2 separate regions of the Homo sapiens genome follow, and region 1 is linked to region 2. The links come from fine-mapping of genetic effects on gene expression. A gene starts in region 2. The other region holds a variant in brackets. All regions are shown on one strand. Distances are from middle to middle.

Region 1 (8,337 bases), 130 kb after region 2:
ACTGCACCCAAAGCACATCTCTCAGACAAGATTCTTAATGAGTTCCATCCAGATTCTTAACGAGTTCAGGGAGCATTTTGTGGAGACAAGCAAGTCTATTGGCTTGTTCTTTTTTTTTTTTTAACTTTTATTTTTGATTAGGGGGTACATTTTCTGTCCTGTTTCACAGCAACTTCCTGAGGTCAAAGGAACATTAGTTGTTTTCCTGCCCTTGAACGATAGCCTTCAAAAAGGATGTACGTATGGCCTAAACCTTTGATGGACATAAATTATGATATGCAACATAATCAGAGAAATATGGTGAAGAAACATTAAAAGAGGAAAACTCTGCTTGGCTTCTGAGGACTTTGTTTATTCATACACTCCGTCATTTGTTCACTCAGCATTTACTGACAGCCAAATATATGCTGCTTCAGTAAAGAAAGGGAAGAATCAGACACATATTTACTCCTGAAGAGTTCCCCAGTTTACTGGGGGAAGATACAGCCCTTTCTCTCTATCCCTCACTGCATCTAAGGGTCATGGGAACACAGAAATGGCAAAGACTAACCACAAATGGGGCAGGAACACGTGAGGAGAGAGAACTCAGGAAAGTGTTGTTCAATCTACACTCATATAGGAGAATCTTTCCAGGTGAAGAGGTGGCAGGGATTCCTCAGAGTACAAAGCATGTGAAAAGGCTCCGAAAGATGAAATCTGAATGCTGGGGAAGACCTCTGAGTAGCTGGAGCACAGAATGCCAAAGACGGAAAATAATGACCAAGGAGTCTAAAAAGTGGGTCAGGCCCAACTGGACAGTATGTGCATAAAAAATGAGGAGTCTCATGCCTGTAATCCCAGCACTTTGGGAGGCTGAGGTGGGTGGATCACCTGAGGTCAGGAGTTCGAGACCAGCCTGACCAATGTCAGGCCTCTGAGCCCAAGCCAAGCCATCGCATCCCCTGTGACTTGCATGTATATGCCCAGATGGCCTGAAGTAACTGAAGAATCACAAAAGAAGTGAATATGCCCTGGCCCGCCTTAACTGATGACATTCCACCACAAAAGAAGTGTAAATGGCCGGTCATTGCCTTAACTGATGACATTACCTTGTGAAAGTCCTTTTCCTGGCTCATCCTGACTCAAAAATCACCCCCACTGAGCACCTTGCGACCCCCACTCCTGCCCGCCAGAGAACAAACCCCCTTTGACTGTAATTTTCCTTTACCTACCCAAATCCTATAAAACGGCCCCACCCTTATCTCCCTTCTCTGACTCTCTTTTCGGACTCAGCCCGCCTGCACCCAGGTGAAATAAACAGCCATGTTGCTCACACAAAGCCTGTTTGGTGGTCTCTTCACACGGACGCGCATGAAATTTGGTGCCGTGACTCAGATCGGGGTACCTCCCTTGGGAGATCAATCCCCTGTCCTCCTGTTCTTTGCTCCATGAGAAAGATCCACCTACGATCTCAGGTCCTCAGACCGACCAGCCCAGGGAACATCTCACCAATTTTAAATCAGGTAAACGGCGTCTTACTCTCTTCTCCAACCTCTCTCACTGTCCCTCAACCACTTTCTCCTTTCCACTCTTCAATCTCTCCCTTTTCTTAATTTCAATTCCTTTCATTTTCTGGGAGAGACAAAGGAGACACGTTTTATCCGTGGGCCCAAAACTCCGGCGCCGGTCACGGACTGGGAAGGCAGCCCTCCATTGGTGTTTAATCATTGCAGGGACGCCTGATTATACACCCACGTTTCAAGGGTGTCAGACCACGTAGGGATGCCTGCCTTGGTCCTTTACCCTTAGCGGCAAGTCCCGCTTTTCTGGGGAAGGGGCAAGTACCTCAACCCCTTCTCTCCTTGTCTCTACCCCTTCTCTGCTTTTCTGGGAGAGGGGCAAGTACCCCTCAACCCCTTCTCCTTCACCCTTAGCGGCAAGTCCCGCTTTTCTACAGGGCAAGAACCCCCAATCCCTTATTTCCACACCCCAACCTCTTACCTCTGTGCCCCAATCCCTTATTTCCATACCCCAACCTCTTATCTCTGCACCCCAATCCCTTATTTCCACACCCCAACCTCTTATCTCTGTGCCCCAATCCCTTATTTCTGTGCCCCAACCTCTTATCTCTGCACCCCAACCCCTTTTCCCACTTTTCTGGAAGGTAAGAACTCCTGAACCCCTTCCCTCCGTTTCTCTACTCTCTCTTTTCTCTAGGCTTGCTTCCTTCACTATGGGCAACCTTCCACCCTCCATTCCTCCTTCTACTCCCTTGGCCTGTGTTCTCAAAAACTTAAAACCTCTTCAACTCACACCTGACCTAAAACCTAAATGCCTTATTTTCTTCTGCAATGCCGCTTGACCCCAATACAAACTCAACAGTAGTTCCAAATAGCCAGAAAATGGCACTTTGAATTTTTCCATCCTGCACAATCTAAATAATTCTTGTCGTAAAATAGGCAAACGGTCTGAGGTGCCTGACGTCCAGGCATTCTTTTACACATCAGTCCCTTCCTAGTCTCTGTGCCCAGTGCAACTTGTCCCAAATCTTCCTTCTTTCCCTCCCGCCTGTCCCCTCAGTCCCAACCCCAAGCGTCGCTGAGTCTTTCTAATCTTCCTTTTCTACAGACCCATCTGACCTCTCCCCTCCTCGCTAGCCCAAGCTAGGTCCCCATTCTTCCTCAGCCTCCGCTCCTCCACCCTGTAATCTTTTTATCGCCTCCCCTCCTCACACCTGGTCCGGCTTACAGTTTCGTTCTGTGACTAGCCCTCCCCCACCTGCCCAGCAATTTACTCTTAAAAAGGTGGCTGGAGCTAAAGGCATAGTCAAGGTTAATGCTCCTTTTTCTTTATCCCAAATCAGAAGCGTTTAGGCCCTTTTTCATCAAATATAAAAACCCAGCCCAGTTCATGGCTCGTTTGGCAGCAACCCTGAGACACTTTACAGCCCTAGACCCTAAAAGGTCAAAAGGCCGTCTTATTCTCAATATACATTCTATTACCCAATCTGCTTCCAACATTAAATAAAACTCCAAAAATTGGAATCTGGCCCTCAAACCCCACAACAAGACTTAATTAACCTCACCTTCAAGGTGTACAATAACAGAAAAAAGTTGCAATTCCTTGCCTCCACTGTGAGACAAACCCCAGACACATCTCCAGCACACAAGACTTCCAAACGCCTGAACCGCAGCAGCCAGGCGTTCCTCCAGAACCTCCTCCCCCAGGAGCTTGCTAAATGTGCTGGAAATCTGGCCACTGGGCCAAGGAATGCCCGCAGCCCGGGATTCCTCCTAAGCCGCGTCCCAACTGTGTGGGACCCCACTGAAAATCGGACTGTTCAACTCACCTGGCAGCCACTCCCAGAGTCCCTGGAACTCTGGCCCAAGGCTCTCTGACTGACTCCTTCCCAGAACTTCTCGGCTTAGCGGCTGAAGACTGACACTGCCCGATCGCCTTGGAAGCCCCCTAGACCATCACGGATGCTGAGCTTCCGGTAACTCTCACAGTGGAAGGTAAGCCAGTCCCCTTCTTAATCAATACGGAGGCTACCCACTCCACATTACCTTCTTTTCAAGGGCCTGTTTCCCTTGCCTCCATAACTGTTGTGGGTATTGATGGCCAGGCTTCTAAACCTCTTAAAACTCCCCAACTCTGGTGCCAACTTAGACAATACTCTTTTAAGCGCTCCTTTTTAGTTATCCCCACCTGCCCAGTTCCCTTATTAGGC[T/C]GAGACACTTTAACTAAATTATCTGCTTCCCTGACTATTCCTGGACTACAGCTAAATCTCATTGCCACCCTTCTTCCCAGTCCAAAGCCTCCTTTGCGTCCTCCTCTTGTATCCCCCCACCTTAACCCACAAGTATAAGATACCTCTACTCCCTCCTTGGTGACCGATCATGCACCCCTTACCATCTCATTAAAACCTAATCACCCTTACCCCACTCAATGACAATATCCCATCCCGCAGCATGCTTTAAAAAGATTAAAGCCTGTTATCACTCGCCTGCTACAGCATGGCCTTTTAAAGCCTATAAACTCTCCTTACAATTCCCCCATTTTACCTGTCCTAAAACCAGACAAGCCTTACAAGTTAGTTCAGGATCTGCGCCTTAGCAACCAAATTGTTTTGCCTATCCACCCCGTGGTGCCAAACCCATATACTCTCCTATCCTCAATACCTCCCTCTACAACCCATTATTCTGTTCTGGATCTCAAACATGCTTTCTTTACTATTCCTTTGCATCCCAGCCTCTCTTCGCTTTCACTTGGACTGACCCTGACACCCATCAAGCTCAGCAAATTACCTAGGCTGTACTGCCGCAAAGCTCACAGACAGCCCCATTACTTCAATCAAGCCCAAATTTCTTCCTCATCTGTTACCTATCTCGGCATAATTCTCATAAAAACACACGTGCTCTCCCTGCCAATCGTGTCCGACTAATCTCTCAAACCCCAGCACCTTCTACAAAACAACAACTCCTTTCCTTCCTAGGCATGGTTAGCGCGGTCAGAATTCTTACACAAGAGCCAGGACCACACCCTGTAGCCTTTCTGTCCAAACAACTTGACCTTACTGTTTTAGCCTAGCCCTCATGTCTGCAAGCAGCGGCTGCCACTGCTTTAATACTTTTAGAGGCCCTTAAAATCACAAACTATGCTCAACTCACTCTCTACAGTTCTCATAACTTCCAAAATCTATTTTCTTCCTCATACCTGACGCATATACTTTCTGCTTCCCGGCTCCTTCAGCTATACTCACTCTTCGTTGAGTCTCCCACAATTACCGTTGTTCCTGCCCCAGACTTCAATCCGGCCTCCCACATTATTCCTGATACCACACCTGACCCCATGACTGTATCTCTCTGATCCACCTGACATTCACCCCATTTCCCCAGATTTTCTTCTTTCCTGTTCCTCACCCTAATCATGCTTGATTTATTGATGGCGGTTCCACCAGACCTAATCGCCACACACCAGCAAAGGCAGGTTATACTATAGTACAAGCCACTAGCCCGCCTCTTAGAACCTCTCATTTCCTTTCCATCGTGGAAATCTATCCTCAAGGAAATAACTTCTCAGTGTTCCATCTGCTATTCTACTACTCCTCAGGGATTATTCTGGCCCCCTCCCTTCCCTACACATCAAGCTCGAGGATTTGCCCCACCCAGGACTGGCAAATTAGCTTTACTCAACATGCCCTGAGTCAGGAAACTAAAATACCTCTTAGTCTAAATAGACACTTTCACTGAATAAGTAAAGGCCTTTCCTACAGGGTCTGAGAAGGCCACTGCAGTCATTTCTTCCCTTCTGTCAGACATAATTCCTCAGTTTAGCCTTCCCACCTCAATACAGTCTGATAACAGATGAGCCTTTATTAGTCAAATCAGCCAAGCAGTTTTTCAGGCTCTTAGTATTCAGTGAAACCTTTATATCCCTTACGGTCCTCCGTCTTCAAGAAAAGTAGAATGGACTGAAGGTCTTTTAAAAACACACCTCACCAAGCTCAGCCACCAAAAAGGACTGGACAATACTTTTACCACTTTCCCTTCTCAGAATTCAGGCCTGTCCTCGGAATGCTACAGGGTACAGCCCATTTAAGCTCCTGTATAGACGCTCCTTTTTATTAGGCCCCAGTCTCATTCCAGACACCAGACCAACTTAGACTGTGCCTACCTCCCCAAAAAAAAACTTGTCATACTCCTATTTTCTGTCTAGTCATACTCCTATTCACCGTTCTCAACTACTCATACATGACCTGCTCTTGTTTACACTGCCAGTTTACACTGTTTCTCCAAGCCATCACAGCTGATATCTCCTGGTGCTGTCCCCAAACTGCCACTCTTAACTCTTGAAGTAAATAAATAATCTTTGCTGGCAGGACTATGCTGAATCTCCTTAAGCACTCTCCAATCAGATATCCTGAGTCGTCCCAATTCTTAGACCTTTTATACCTGTTTTTCTCCTTCTGTTATTCCATTTAGTTTTTCAATTCATACAAAACCGTATCCAGGCCATCACCAATCATTCTATACGACAAATGTTTCTTCTAACAACCCCACAATATCACCCCTTACCACAAGACCTCCCTTCAGCTTAATCTCTCCCACTCTAGGTTCCCACGCCGCCCCTAATCCCGCTTGAAGCAGCCCTGAGAAACATCGCCCATTCTCTCTCCATACCACCCCCCCAAAATTTTCACCGCCCCAAAACTTCAACACTATTTTGTTTTATTTTTTTTATTAATATAAGAAGGCAGGAATGTCAGGCCTCTGAGCCCAAGCCAAGCCATCGCATCCCCTGTGACTTGCAGGTATACGCCCAGATGGCCTGAAGTAACTGAAGAATCACAAAAGAAGTGAATATGCCCTGCCCCGCCTTAACTGATGACATTCCACCACAAAAGAAGTGTAAATGGCCGGTCCTTGCCTTAACTGATGACATTACCTTGTGAAAGTCCTTTTCCTGGCTCATCCTGACTCAAAAATCACCCCCACTGAGCACCTTGCGACCCCCCACTCCTGCCTGTCAGAGAACAAACCCCCTTTGACTGTAATTTTCCTTTACCTACCCAAATCCTATAAAACGGCCCCACCCTTATCTCCCTTCTCTGACTCTTTTCTGACTCAGCCCGCCTGCACCCAGGTGAAATAAACAGCCATGTTGCTCACACAAAGCCTGTTTGGTGGTCTCTTCACACGGACGCGTGTGAAAACCAACATGGAGAAACCCCGTCTCTACTAAAAATACAAAATTAGTCGGGCATGGTGGTGCACGCCTGTAATCCCAGCTACTCAGGAGGCTGAGGCAGGAGAATCTCTTGAATCCGGGAGGCGGAGGTTGCGGTGAGCTGAGATCACACCATTGCACTCCAGCCTGGGCAACAAGAGCAAAAGAAACTCTGTCTAAAAACAAACAAAAAAGAGGAGTCCTGAATTGTTTAAATAAGGGAGAAGAATAACATTGATAACATTGTCAGATCTGGGTTTTAGGCAGAACCTTTTTATGGGTAGCAGAGACGACCAAAACAAGTACAAGTAGTCAATCAAAAGTCACCGATATGTCCAACAAGAGAGCCTGCTCTCCCCAGGACAGAGTGAAAGCCCAGTGGCCTCACAGGCACGAGTGTCTGGGAGCACTGCAGGAAGGAAGTCAGAATCCACTGGACTCCACAACTTCCTGATGAGTGAGAAAAATTCTGGAAAACTGTCAGCATTCTCTCAGAAGGTGAGCATACCGATTGCAGAGTATTTCTACCTTTCCAAGCTTGGCAATAGTACAAAAATGAGGTCGATTCTCTTCACTCTGTGTAACTCACACCACCAGATGCTGATGCCCTTAGACTCTTTCACAGCTACAGTTCCCCAAATCATTTATATCCAGAGGTCAGGCATATGGAGCTCATTAAATTCCATACAGCAACATTGTAACCATGTGAAACTTTTTGTTTGCAGTGCAATTTAATGTTGAATTTGATTTATGAGGCACTGCACATTCTTAGTCCTAGGATGACAGCATACACTTCTACAAGCTTAAGTCATGGTTTGGGGCAAGGGGGAAGGCCTTTGACCAGATGTTGGAATTGGAAATCTGGGCTTATGCTAAGCATTTGCGAAGAAGGGAGAGCACCACATCTTAGAGAAGGTCTATCCCAACTTGACTGTTATATCACTGAGGAAACCAAGACCTAGAGAATTTCTTTTCCTTTTTCTTTTCTTTTCTCTCTTTTTTTTTTTTTTGAGACAGGGTCTCCCTCTCTTGCCCAGGCTGGAGTGCAGTGGTGCGATCATGGCTCGCTACAGCTTCAACCTCCCAGCCTCGAGCAATCCTCCCACCTCAGCCACCTGAGTAGCTGGGATTACAGATGTATGCCACCAAGTCCAGCTAATTTTTGTATTTTTTTTGTAGAGACAGGGTTTCACGATGTTGTCCAGGCTGGTCTCGAACCCTTGGGCTCAAGCAATCTGCCCACCTCTCAAAGTGCTGGAATAACAGGCATCCTAGAGAATTTAAATGACAGAGGCAGTGGCTGGAACCCAGGTCTCCTGATTCTCAGCCCAGTGGCCCTCCTTCTCTCTCCCTTGCCTCTCTACTATTCAAAATACAAAAATGAAGAGAAAATGGGCCTTTCTTATTCATGCGGAAATTCATTCCAACTTGACAGAAAGGTACCCATGTAAAATGTATTGTTAACTTCATATCCTAGTATATAAATAAGAGAAAATCAATAAAGCATTTGTTTGAAAATGACTTGCTTTCTGTTTGGTTGGTACAAAGTTATATCATATATGATATATGGCTCTGGAATCAAATCTAAAAATTTAAATTACTTGCTCAAAGCCACATGGCTGATAAGTC
Region 2 (8,308 bases):
AAATAAAGATAACCTAACACCCTCAGGCATTTGCCTTACTCTTGGCTACAATGTCTACAAAATGTGAGTCTGTTACTTCCTAAGCCCAGCATTGAGCAACTGGGTCCATTTCATATGCAAAAAAAGTGAATGGTCTGGGATTTAAGTGAAAGCCCCGATATTAAAAATGCTTATCACTTGTATATGAAACTGAAACACAATATGTAAACCTCAGAAACTCGAATACTTTGTTCAAATGAATGCTTAAACCATATACTTAGAAAAGGCTATTCTCTGTTTCTAGGCAATTTCTTGGGTGATGCATAAAACATGTAGAGAGGGGAGGAAAAAGCTGGCTAATCTCCCAAATTATCACCAGTCTCATCTCACTGATCAAATGAAAAGATTATTGTACTTTGTGTATTCTTTTTGAACAGGAATTCATAAAATGTTTAATAGAGAAAATGATCCTTTGGGGTACATTATTAATAAAGTCTGCAGATCAAAGATGATGGTCTGATAGCATTTTGACTGGAATGTATAAAGAGGCAAAAAAATCCTAATGAATATTGAGGCAAATTTTGTATTTTAAATACTTGGTGAAGAAATAGTTACATGAATATTTCATGATAGTTCTGTATTTTCAAACTTTATTTTTCTGCTTACAAAATTAACATATGCCTAACATGGAAAACGTAGAAGGTATGGAGAGGTAAAAAAGGAGGAGAAAAATAGAAAAGAGAAGAATTATCAATAATTCCACCTCCCTGAGTTAACTGCTACTGATATTTTGGCATGTTTCCTTCCAGACTTTTATCTGTGCATTTATTTTTCTTAAATGCAGGGCAGATTATATCTATATATAATTTTGTATTCGTTTCTTTGTATTCTGTATTCTACCAAAGACATTTCCTCAAACCAATGAAAACTCTTTAATGGTTGCACACTATTTGACAGTAAGTATATGTTACATAGTATCATTTATTTAAATATTTTCTTCTATGCTGGATATTAAAGCTATGTCCCTTTTGGTTTTTATACTATTATAAATAATTCTAGAGATAATACCTTATTGTGTAAATCTTTGTTCTTATTTTTTATTGTTTCCTTGAGCTACGTTCCAGAAAGAAGAATTAGTAGATCAAAGAAGATGAACATTTTCAAGCCATTTGATTGATATTGCTAAATCCCAAATGATTATACAGAGTTACACTTTTTCAGGATGTATGCAATATATAACATATGGGAGATTACCTCCCTAAATGCTCAAGAGAAATATTACAAAGCTTGTAATCTTTATTAATTTTAAATTTTCTAGACTATTATCACATGTAGTGAATAAAGATTATCAAAAATTGCAGCTAACATGTTTTGAGTTGGCGAGAGTTACATAAAAGTGACCATTATTTTTTATATCAATAACTAATAATTTAAATAAAAACAGCCAATAAAGACAAGCACGGTCAAGTGCAGTCATGAGGAACCATCCAATGGAAGCTGTCTCATCTGAGTCCCACTGCCTGAGCCTAGTCACTTCAATAATTTAACCTGGGCTTGGAATCTAATTTTTTAAATTAAAGTTTTATGTCATGTTCATTGTACGATATTTGCAAAATGAATAATAGTTGAGGGAAGGGAGAAAATATCACCAACCAAAGATAACAATTACCATTTTAGTACATATTTTTATTTTATTTTTTAAAGTACTCCATTAGATTTATATACAGCCTCTTTCCTTTAGCATAAAACATACATTTTCCTATGCCATTAAAAAGTTTTATACTTATTTTTCTATTGCATGAATAATATCCCATTGTCCTATATCACATATCAGCATTTACATAACCTAACATAGACATTCAAGTTGTTTCCAAATATTAGAATATATATATTATAAATAAAGTTGTATCCCAGAGCTGCATAAAACTCTTTCAGACTTTAGTTTATTTCCTCAGTATAGATGTCCAGAGGCAGGAACACTAGGCCAAAAGATTTATGTTTTAAGGCTCTTGATATTTTTAAGCAGCATAATTTTTTTTGTATTTCCTGTAAAATATGTAAGAGTCTTCATTTCCAATTTATGGATGAGGAATTTCAGAAAGGAAAATAAATGCCCTATGTACATGAAACCAAGTAAACTAATGGAAAAATGAGAAAGAAATATTCAAACAGGTTTTTGATATCACAGAGATCCTGGACTCTGTAAGTATCTGAAATTGAACTGAAGATAAGGAACAAGCTGAGGTCACACAATTATTGTGGGACAAAAATTGGAGTGGGTTTCTATGTTATGTGAGAGCAAGTTCATTGCAAGATTTCTTTAACCATGAAGCAAAAGAGGAAATACCAATTATAACCACATATACTTCATGAGATATGCTAAATGAGCAAAATAATGATTTGCATATGAACAAGGGAAAAACACACTTTATATGGAAACTATACACACACACATACACACACACAGATTTCAATAGAATGTATTTAGAGAACTTATGATTCATTAAGAGTAGGGAGAGACCACAAAAATGGGCAAATGACATTAATGGGCAATTTATAAAATGATAAAATTAGTAATAAAATATTTACTCTTATAAATCAACAAAATACAAAGGAAGTCAACAATGTGTATTTTTTACTTGTCAATTTGCCAAACACTTAAAAAGTGCTTTCATACACTGTTATTGGAAGTGTAGACTGATGTAATCTTTCTAGAGGGTAATTGGGCAATGTGTAGCAAGATCCTTACATTTTCCTCAGTTACTGACCCAGTAATTCCACTTCTTAGAGAAATAATTAAAGATTTGCAAAAAGCAAAAAAAATTATGTAGCTGGTTGCTCATCACAGCATTATTTGTAAAAATGAAAAAGCAGGAATTGACTAAATGACAGAATATTATTAGCAATTTCAACTGTTTTAAATAAATTGCTAATGCCATAGGAAAATTTCTGTAATACAATTTAAGTGAAATATTTCAGAAATAGTGCTGCATACATAATCAGGTAGCTATCTGAAAACATTAATAGTACTTATCTCTAGGTGAAATTATTTGGTCATTTTAACATTTTTCTTAATAATTAGGATAATGTGATTTACCAAATGAGATACTATGAAAATGAAGGATATAGAATTTGTATTACAATTTTCTTTTTCCAATCACAAAACATGACATGTCTATTTGTATATCTCATGCATTGTGTTAGGAAATGTTTGCTAGATATTTATTCATTTATTCAAGGATTATTAGAGGATTATGATTATTCAGTGATAAATTTCAGTGGTCTTTATTATTCTCATCTCATGGTGGTATATATGAGTAGCAAGGAAGGAGAAGCCAGCTGCATTGGTCTTAAAAAGAAACCATTCAATTTAGACAATCTAAATTATAATAATCAGTTCCTCTTCCCACTTTACACTCACCTATCATATCCCAGCCCTCCAGGAACCAGCATCCCCAAAAGATAAAGGGTTTCAAGCAGAGGCTTCATTCTGCCACACAGTAAGTTAGAAAATTCTGGGCCTCTCTGGCAGTGGATCAAGTGTCCTTGAGAATGAATGCATCAAGACTGTGGCTCCCACAATCAAGATGAGATAAATCAGTTAGTGGATGTCTCAGCAGAAAGTCACGGGCAATTGCTTTATTAACTCTCTCATGTCCTCAAACACCTTTTCCAGTGTGGGAAATGCTGTACCATTTGATATTTCATTTCTTCTCTAAAACCAAATTTACGTGAGCTCTCAACTTCACCAGATCCTGAAATAAATTTCCTCCCTATGTAAAGTCACCTTGGAGTATTTCTAGGAACCCCCATCACTCGTGCTCAGGAGCAATCATTCCTGCTCTTCCCCTCACACAGGTTGAATGGGAATAGTAGGCTAGTCTTTGTGAATCATGAGCCTGTTCATGAGACCAGAAAGAACACTCTGCTCTGGTCAAAATGGACATGGTCATTATTCAGAATCTCCACTTCCTCCTTCAATCTAAGGCTTTGATTGGGGTCAAATGCCTTCTCTTTTTCTGATGAACCACATCACCAGCTTCTTAAACAAACCCAGATCTCTTCAAATCTGAGCAGTGAAGACAGTTTCAATCCTTTCCCATGTGGATTTTACCCCACGCCCCTCTTACATGAAGGACTCTGTCAGATACTCCGCCATGTTTTCAGACATAGCCAAGTTATGCTTGAATCTCATTGACCAGTAAAATTAAAGACTCATGTTAAGACCATTGCTAATAGTCTAACTGAGCAAGGCAAACTTTAGCGCAGAGCAGGTAGAGTATTTAAATGGAGTCCTTGGCATTTAGGGACCCAGTTTAAATCTTCTGCCCTGTATTCATGTATTCATTCTACAAAAATCTCATGAGTACCACTGTATACCAGACACTATGCTAGATACTTAAGATACAAGGGTGAACAAGGCAGAGTCCCTTCTTTTATGGAACTCACAGTAGAGTTGAGAGAAAAATAAACGAGTATACAAACAAATGTTACAGTTTCAAGTAAAGAGAATGCAGTTAAAAAACTAGAGGAGATAAGCGCTTCCATGCTGTCTCCAGGCATGCCATCCACCCAGTCCCTCCATGTGTTTAGCAACCCAGAGGCTCTCCAAACTCTGTTCCCTTGTGTTTTTATGAAGACTTCATTACATAGGTATGATTGATCATATCATTGGTCATTGGTGATTAAATAAATCTCCAGTCCCTCTTTCCTCCCCAGAGATGGGAGGGGATTACTGAATAACATGGCTGATTCTCCTGGCAACCAGCCGCTATCCTTAGAAACTTTCCAAAAGTTACCTGTTCACTTAAACTTAGACATAGTCAAAAGGGACGTCATGAATAACAAAAATGGCCCTTTCACCTTTATTGATCTTATCACTGAGGAAATTCCAAGGGTTTTAGGAGCTCTGTGTCAGGAACCAGGGACAAAGACAAAATATGTATTTCCTATTGTATCACAATATCACGATGGTGTTTAAAGCCACTGGGCTAGAGGAGTTCATCTAGGGTGTGGGTATAGACAGAGAAAGACAAAGACTGAGACCTGGGCTGACCTAACATTTAGAGGACTTGGTAGAAGAGAAGAATCCAGCGAGGGAATTGTGAAGAACAGCCAGTGAGGTAGTTAAAAAATGGGTGACTATTGTGTCCCAGAAGCCAAATGAGGAAAGCATTAAAAACAAAAAAAATGGGAGTTACCCACTGGTCAAACGAGGACGAAGAACTAACCAATCATAACCAGCAGGATAGAGGCTCCTGGAGACCTTGAAAAGAGCAATTTCAGTAGATAACGTGGTGGGGACAAACGCCTGCCTGGAGCTGGTTAAAGAAGGAAAGGGAAGTGAGAAAGTGGAGGCGGTGAGTATAGAAAACTCAGCATAGCTTGCCTACGATAATGGCACCTTAAAGAAAACTGCATTGTTAGCATTTTGCATCCTTCCCTTGGGATTTAGTTAATTCAAAAATCCTGAATTTGAATTTTGCTGTTCAGAATGAGGGGTAAAATGCAACACTCATGCCACTCTCTTCCTCACCCAAGTGAGGGGACTGGCAGGAACCTTGGTAGTACTAATTTTGGAGCAAGGGTTCTAATGGTGCTGTCAGTTCCACAGAAAGAGAGGGGGACCTGGAAGTTAAGGGTGTCATCTTTCCATACTCTTGCTAATTGGAATGGGCTGAGATGGATTCATGGCAAAGGGACGTATGGGTAGTCTAAATAAAAAGAAAGACTGCAAAAGGCTTCCCCTGCTACCAATATGTAGTTCCATACAGTTATTCTGAAACAAAAGAATATAAATAAAAGTTTAAAAACACATAAAAATGTAGTCAAATAATACACACAAATTGTTAGTAAAAACCTGCAAATAATTTTTTAAATGTGTTGTGAGGACATTTGATATTACTACACAGGATTTTCTTAACTGTCACTGATAATTGGATTTTCCTCAATCCCCACGTCCAATTTCACTGTAATATGTGGTCTCCTGCCAACCCCCCTGGCCAAAGATTATCTTTCTGTAACCTTATGGAATGCAAGCAGTAACCCAGGGAACTCAGGGCCAATGAAGTGGAACCATGGGCTCCTCACTAACAAGGGTGAATTATTATCACATCTTTCCTGGTGATTAGATTATTTCTTATCGTTGTGTTTTATAGCTTTCTAGTTAGTCATCTCCACACAATTTATTCACAATAATAGTGTTTTATTATTGCTGTTTTATAGTTCCTATAACAGTAAAATTTGTTCTCAACTCTATTATTACAATATTCAACTACTAATGGATATTCTTATTTTTATTTGATTGTGTTTTAAAGCCATAACAATAAAATTTACTCCCAAAAATATTACTGCAAGTTTTATGCTCTTTAAACTACTTGATAGAATGCCTGCAAACACATGTGGTCCTTTAAGCCACATGAGAGAAAGCCTGCCAACACATAAACATTGTTCTAGGGGAAAAAGGGGGGGGAATTGGTTTCAATTATGGTGAAACTTGCGTTCTTTGATGGAGTAAGTAATGGGATGAAAGAAATGAAAGGACCTTAGAGATAGCTGATTTCAAAGAGAATTATATTCTAATTGGTAGAATTATTTGTTTAAAAAATCAACCTCTTTTTATTACCTGCCAAGCCCTACACATTTCCACCGACTTCATCCTCCAAAATAATGTGCTCTCAAAAGGCCCAAGATTTCTCTGGGCTCAAAATTGCATGGCTTGTTGCCACATTAGTTGGATAGAGGCTGCTATGAAATATTATTACCAAAAGCCAGGGTCATGTTGAAGGTGAACAGCTTCAGTGACTTAAGAACTGGAAGGCACACAGCCAAGTCAGGTCACTACCTCTGCTGCTTGTCAGTTGCTCTCATTGACCCTGAACCCAAGGACATTGCAATAAACTTCATCACTTGCTTGGTGTGCATTGTTTGTGCCTGGAACACTGAATCAAAGGGACTATAACATGAATTATGACCCACCTAGTGGAGCAAAGTACCAGTGGGATTCAAATAATTGGTATATCAGACTGGCAGCAATTAAGGTGTGGTTAAGGGCTTGGTCTCAGATGGATAATACATTGACTTATGGTCACAAGGAGAGCTGGAGGCAGGTTGGGTGGAGATATAAGCTGGTTGACACTCAGAACTTACAGCCTTACTAGCAGAAGAGGCAAAATCTAGATTTGATTTCTGAGGCAGCACCAAGGAGAGGTTCTTCTGACAGAAGCTTCAGCAGATTGCTGCCATCATCTAAAGCAAGAAATGAGCAGATGGATAGATGGATGGATGGATGGATGGATGGATGGGTGGATGGATGGATGGATACATGGGTCCACAGATGCACGGATGCATGGATGAATCTGTATCTATGTTCTAGTCAGATGGCATAAATCCACTGACTAGATGTAGCCCTCATATACACAGGTAGGGACTTAGCTTGCTGTGACCATCTTCTTTCCTTTGCCCAGCTGTGGAAGTGTGCAAGTCAGCTCTACCTTCAAGAAAGAAACCGCTGTCAATTTCTCGCTATGGGTAGCTTCAGAATCTGACTCTGTATTCAAGCTGGGACTATGTGCTACCTGGACATCCTCTAACCAATGACTGAGCACAGAACTGGCATAAATGCTCACCATTGAACCAATGCAAGGTGCCTCTAGGAGCAAATTTCTTGTGGCTGTACCACAGTCTGAGGCCTTTCTGGCCAATCTTCCTTTCCTCCTTCTATCTTTTCACAGGTGTCAGATCTGGGTGTAAGGCTCTCCTTGCTTTCTCTTGCTTTTTCTCCCCTTTATCTTTCACAAAAATTACACCCCTAAAATCTCTTCTACTTTCAACTCCATCTTGGTATCTGCTTTTCAGATGATCCAGCCAACACACCAGCCAGATCCCAGAAAACATGAAAATAAATGAATGTAATTGATCTTGAGCTATGTGGATCTTTCTGAAACTTTGTGGATAATTAAATTCAGAAACAAAACTGAAGTTTGGAAGTAACAGGGATAATCCTACATGGCTAGGCCTTAACAGGCTTGTGACACCCAGCCAGAAAGCTACAGAAAATTACATGGTAGCTTAGTAACATTCCTTACCAGTTGGCTTTTTGAAAAAAGTGTTTTCTCTTTCACTGCTTGCTCACCCTGGCCAACATGTGGTAGGCGCAGGGTCCTCAGCCTTTCCGTGAAGACGATCAACGTTGCTCTTTCCCACGTGCTGATGTATTTTCTATTTGGATCATCTGGGGAGGGAAGAGGAGCAAAGACGAAATGTACACTCTCAAGTGCTAAGAGTAGAGATGGAGGGTGAGGAAATGGAGGAGGTTTTAAAGAGGAGT

Alleles and levels. Positions count from the first base shown, and alleles are read on the strand shown. Sizes are in standard deviations (SD) of each study's normalised expression.
For the expression in tibial nerve of the gene that starts at base 3,550 in region 2, allele C in region 1 goes with a lower level than allele T (small effect, 0.35 SD a copy in GTEx).

Evidence for each region. PIP is the estimated chance that this variant, and not a neighbour inherited with it, causes the effect.
Region 1: its variant is fine-mapped to the expression of CPO in tibial nerve (GTEx, PIP 0.98).

What each region holds. Positions count from the first base shown.
Region 1 is chr2:206,805,194-206,813,530 of GRCh38, reverse strand. No RefSeq gene overlaps it. Among named protein-coding and RNA genes, the nearest start is that of MIR3130-1, 26 kb to the right of the region's middle. RefSeq lists enhancers at 747-1,364, 1,365-1,980, 5,971-6,798. The variant T/C (reference allele first, on the strand shown) is at 3,710.
Region 2 is chr2:206,934,760-206,943,067 of GRCh38, reverse strand. It overlaps CPO (carboxypeptidase O), which reads right to left and starts at 3,550. Exons shown (of 9, transcript NM_173077.3): 1 at 3,401-3,550. The coding sequence starts at 3,468.